2 separate regions of the Homo sapiens genome follow, and region 2 is linked to region 1. The links come from fine-mapping of genetic effects on gene expression. Tissue or cell type: whole blood. Region 1 holds a variant in brackets; the other region holds the start of a gene. All regions are shown on one strand. Distances are from middle to middle.

The links. PIP is the estimated chance that this variant, and not a neighbour inherited with it, causes the effect.
Region 2: it holds the start of SPATS2L, and the variant in region 1 is fine-mapped to the expression of SPATS2L in whole blood (INTERVAL, PIP 0.91).

What each region holds. Positions count from the first base shown.
Region 1 is chr2:200,380,028-200,382,786 of GRCh38, reverse strand. The region is part of intron 2 of SPATS2L (spermatogenesis associated serine rich 2 like); the gene reads right to left. Among named protein-coding and RNA genes, the nearest start is that of SPATS2L, 75 kb to the right of the region's middle. The variant T/C (reference allele first, on the strand shown) is at 1,638.
Region 2 is chr2:200,305,537-200,308,295 of GRCh38, reverse strand. SPATS2L (spermatogenesis associated serine rich 2 like) reads right to left here and starts at 1,603. Exons shown (of 13, transcript NM_001100423.2): 1 at 1,374-1,603. RefSeq lists silencers at 639-968, 989-1,718 and an enhancer at 2,129-2,228.

The sequences.
Region 1 (2,759 bases):
ATTTTTTTTCATTTTACCGTCACAACCCTACGAATAGAAATTAAGATTATCCCCATTTTTACATACGTGGAAACTGAAGCACAAAGAGATCTAGTAACTGCTCAAGGTCCCACAGTTAAGTGGCAGGGCCAGGACTCAAACCTAAGGCAGTCCAACTCAGCAAGCCCACGGCCATTGGGCTAACAGCACCTCAAAACCATCATAAACAAGTCACAGGGCTCACTGTCTATGAAATGCAGTAAGAACTCCACCAGGGGAATAAAACCGTTCCACGGGACCTGCCTTCTCAGGCCAGACAGGCCCACAGTATATGCCTTGCGCATTTGCAGGATGCACAAACTGCAGTGCGAAACCACTCCACTCACACAGGAATGGGCATAAATGAACTTGTTTCAAAGAAATGGCTATTTTTGGCTGGGTGAGATGGCTCACTCCTATAATCCCAGCATTTTGGGAGGCCGAGGCGGGTGGATCACCTAAGGTCAGGAGTTCGAGACCAGCCTGATCAGTATGACAAAACCTCGTCTCTACTAAAAATACAAAAATTAGCTGGGCATGATGGCGTGTGTTTGTAGTCCCAGGTACTGGGGAGGGGGATGGGGTGGGGCTGAGACAGGAGAATTGCTTGAACCCGGTAGGTGGGGCGGAAGTTGCAGTGAGCTAAGATCATGTCACTGCACTCCAGCCTGGGTGACAGAGTGACTCCATTCACCACAACCCCGACCCCACCAAAAAACGGCTGTTTTCCTGCAGCTTCCTACCTCAGGTGAAGGTGCAAAGAGTTGCAGTTAGTGGGCCCTCAGCCAACAAATTGTTTCTTGCGAGCTGTGATGCAGCCCAGTGGCTCTGTGACATTCTGGGGTCTAAAGGCATAACTAACTGAATTACTAACTTAATTACTAAGAGTAATTAAAGTGTCTGTGTACCTGACTTTGGTATAGCCTAGACAATGCTATTCAAAAATCCTGCATCACTATGATCACGTAGATCCTAAGACATTTTCTCATGGCTGCCTCAGAGGGGAAGAATCAGCACTGATTTTGTGCGTAGGAAGTCAATTATGCCATGTGATTTGAGAAGCAGCAAAAATCTCTCAGGCAAAACAGCATCCAACAGTATCTCTGAGTATGGCTTCTCAAGAGACATATGCATTTCTACTTAGTTGAAGGCATGCAATATATTACCTCTGGAAGAAGGCGCACTATCACAGACTAATTTATTTCATTCTCCTACTGCCGTCAATTGGCCCTTAGCAGACAGCAGTGCTCTGACAGGATGGGAAACAAGACAGGTACCCTTCGATAGGGAGAGTTGGAAGAACTTCACATCTGTCTATAAAGGGCATCATTCATCCTGACAGGCCACACTGTGGCACGAGGGCCTCAGATCTCCAGGTTGGAGGAAATGAACTCTGTGGTCTCTTTTGGCTCTCAGGTACTACAGGTTTGTACAGGCACTGGGAGTTGATGGAAACACTTATAAAAGGCGTGGGTGCTGTCTCCAATGATGTACAGTAGTAGGCTATTTCTCTGTACAGGTCACTTTTAAACCAGAGACTAACCATCCAGGGCCCTAAGCACAATCAGGGGCACTTGCATGCCAGCTGAAGAGGGAAACAAATGCTCCTTCTTCAAAAC[T/C]GAGATTTGGTCTAAACTTAGTACTAGGTATGTTTTCTGTGGCCTAACTGTTAAATTGCCTAATTTCTCTTCCGTTTTGTCCCCTCCTCCTTTTCCCTCCATCCTTTGCTACTCCTTATCTGGCATGGTAATGACTCAGGTCTCTTATATTTCAAGTGTTTTTGCTCTTTGTTTCTGTGGTTTAATTTCCATAGTTTAATAAAAGTTCTTGTTCCTTAGAGGAAAGTCGCTTTAATTATTAGGACTGAGAAACATAAACAATGAAACAGGGTGGTGACTGAAATATGAATTTCATATGAATATACTTAGATTGGCATTTTTTGTTTAATTTGGAGAAAAAAACTCAAGGTTGCATTTTCATTCAAAGACATTTCAATGTACTCAACCCACTGTTAGAACAACTTCACTGAAAAGCATTTTAAGGGCAAATGTCAGAAAAAAATTTCACATTTAAAAGCTCTGGCTTGGCCTCTTTTGAAAAGCAGGGTTAGCCTTTGGTTTAGAAATGTCACTGCCTACTAAGTTCTTTGTGGGGGGAAGAAAGAAAATTGAATGTTTTATTTAAACAGGTCATTAACAGTCAATACTTATTTGAAAAGGCCTGCTTTCAGAGGCAGATAAAAGCTTCCAATCACTTAGAATATCACTTGAGCAGATCTAGGGCAAGATGTGCTCATGCAAGTTTGAGACCTTCATGGGAGAACCTCTTCACTCAACAGCCCCGAGTGCTGAGTGCTTGTATGGCAGGCAGAGTCATCTGCGTGGCGCACACTGTTGTATATGCTGCACGTACACGGCAGAGCAGAACACAAAACACACTTTATGGCAGTCCCAGCTTTGAATTTTCCATTTTAGTACTGGCAAATGCTTATGAATGAAGATTAACCATTTTTGCATAAAGTGCCAAACCACCTCCTCACAGCAGCAGAATGCAAATGGGCACAAAAGAGCAAAGGACAGCTAAAATAAATGCAGCGGATCTGAGGCAGTGCAAGCACAGGGGGAGGAGGACGCACGGCAGGCTTTATTAGCATTCACCTACGGCATGGTTTTTCTATTTAATTTGAAATTATTTCATTTCATAGGTCTCTGCTGGCTTGAGAATATAAATAAATGCCTTTT
Region 2 (2,759 bases), 74 kb after region 1:
ACGGCCACTCTATTTTCAGGGTATTGGTTGTATTATTTGAAGTCTTTTTTTTTTTTCAGAGTGAAGAGATTTCTGACTTCCTGTCCTCTTCCCTGCTATATTACATACATCTGCTTAAACTCTGGAAAACAGTACCAGTCAAAGTGGTGCTGAAACCTTCCTTTAAGACAAACTAAAACGATGTTAAAAAGGTTACACGACCTTACTATTTCAAGTACTGGTATAAAACCACTTTCTCTGCACAGGTTCTAAAATTTCACAGTCGTTTGTCTTAAAGTCTGTCGGCTTGTGAGGGGGCTGGTACATATTTTAATATTTAAATTTCAAAAAATAAGCAATGAGACTGTGTTTGAAGTTCAAGGGTTTTCACTAGTTCTCAAGCTACAAACCCTGTAATATAGCCAAAAGAAAACGTACAGAAAGAATCTTTCACGAAAAGTGTCAGGTCTCCAAAACCCCGACATCTGCTAAAACCAGGATTGCGGGGGGGATGAGAAGCTCGTGAAGTTCAAAAACACACCAACCCCGCGGGAACACGAAACCTCCACTCGCGAAGACGCGACGCTTCCGCCGCATCCCCGCGCAGGTGAAGACTCGGCCCTTCAGCCCCGCGTGTGCGGCAGCATGATATTCAGAGTGCGCCGGCGTCCAGCGCGAGCGCATCCTACGACAACCCCGTCTCCCGCTGGGGTCCGCAGCCCGCGGACTCCGGGGTCCCCCCGCCCAAATGCGGCGGCGCGACCGCTTCGTCCCGCGGCCAGGGCGCTCCGCGTCTGCTCCGGCCACCCCAGCCCACCCGCGCAGCGCGGACGCCAACGCATCCCACTCCCGCTGGGCGCCAGGGGCGCGGGGTTCAGTGGGGCCGCGGCCCCCGCACCCGGCTGGGATCCGAGGGCGGGGTGGTCGCGGCTGACGTGGGCTTTGCGGCTCCGGGCCAGAGAGCAGCCTGGGGGACGGTGGGTCTCTTTCCGGCTTGGGAGGGAACGGGGGCGCCCGCGCGGGAGGACGGCAGGCGAGGGACGGCGGCCGCGGGCGATTCAGATCCGGGGCGGGCGGGTACACGTCGGAGCGCGGCGGCCACACGCTCGCCCGGGGAGCGCCACTGTGCGTCCCAGCCGGCGCCTCCTCCCGCTTGCCCGCGCCGGCTGGAGAAAGGAAGGACGGCGACCTTCGCGTCCGGTCCGCGCCACCAGCCCGCCTCGGCGCCGAGCGCGGGCCACACCCAGCGCTCCGGGAGGCGGCGGAGGCTGGGCGGCCCGGGCTGCGGAATGCTCGGCCCAGCCGAGTCTCCGTCCCGGCCGCGCAGGCCCCTCCGCGTCCGCCCGCGCCCTGCATCCCCAGCCGGCCCGGCGTGGAGGGGGTCCTGGGCTTACCTCTGTGTCGAGCGCCGGCTCCTCCGTCCCGGGCCGGAGCCGGGGCCCGGGGGCGCGGTCGCCAGGGGAGGCGCCGCGGCGGTGGCGGCCCCTGCGGCTCGGAGGGCGGGCCGAGCGGGAGCCGCTGCCTGGGCCGCGCGCCGTCCGGAGCTCGCCCCGCGCTGCCGGCGCTTGCAGCGGAGGGCGCAGCCAGCTCGGCCCCCGGACTGGATTCCTTCACTGACACAACTCCGGCTCGGCCGCCCCACGCAGGGACACTCCCGCCCCTCGCAGGCTGCCCCCGCCCGCCGACCCGCCCGCCTTCCCCTCGGTGTCACTCACCAGGAGCACACACCCCAGCCGGCGCCCCTCGCTCCCGCTCGCAAACACAGCGCTGCTCACGCCTCTCTCGGGTTTTGTATCCGCTCACACGCACGTTCTGACACAGATCTCGTCCCTCCACACGCCCTCCCTAGCTCCTTTCCCACCCCACTTTCTAGAAGAATCCCAGTACAGCTTCCGCACTTTGCTTGCTTGCTCCAGACCGACTTCCTCGCCTTTCCCCAAACCTCCACTTCACCGAAACTCCCCTTGTTAATGAAAGATTTTGTCACAATCCGCACGTGTTGCAAGAGAATCATCTTCTCCTACCCGAGAAAATGAACTTTGCTCCCTCAGCACTGTCTGCAAATACGAGATGTTTTTCCTTTTAGAAGGTAGTAATGCTTTCTGGAGAGGATCCAAGCTCAAAATGTAAGCAAAGATAGCCCATTCGAAAATGACCTGAAAAATCAGGCGCGGAAAAAGTGCTGGAGCTCGGGTCAGCCCTTGGAAACCCGACCAACCCGGGGTGTTCCGCCGCCTCCTCTGCGCTGCGGGTCTGCACACTGGGCTCCAAACGTGTGTGTAATAACCAAGTTACACATGGGCATCGTGGGCTTCAGCCGTGGGTTTCTGCCTGGGAGTACAGTAGTCGGGAGAGTAAAAGCAGTTTCTCAATCATTATTCATGATGGAAGCACTTTAGATAACACTCTTCTTCCAGAGGCAGTAGAGTGAAATGCAGGCAGCTCTCCAATTCAGGTTTTTATTTATTTATTTATTTATTTATTTATTTAGAAGGGTGACTTCTTAGCTTCCTTTTTTTTTTTTTTTTTTGGCAATACCAATAACTGTTTCTGAGTGGCTCCTTGGCTGTCAAGCTCCTTACAAATATCAGACCAGAGTTTGTTATGCTTCTCGAGCTCCAGACTCTAATGGGCCTCCGAGGGCACTGCAGAATCGTACATAATCCGATGTTCAGGAATTCATAATTTGAAATAAAATACAAACACCTTTCGGATAAAGTTCAAATCTGCTAACATAATGTGGCCCTGTTGACAACGCACTGCTGAAATAAAGAGAGGAG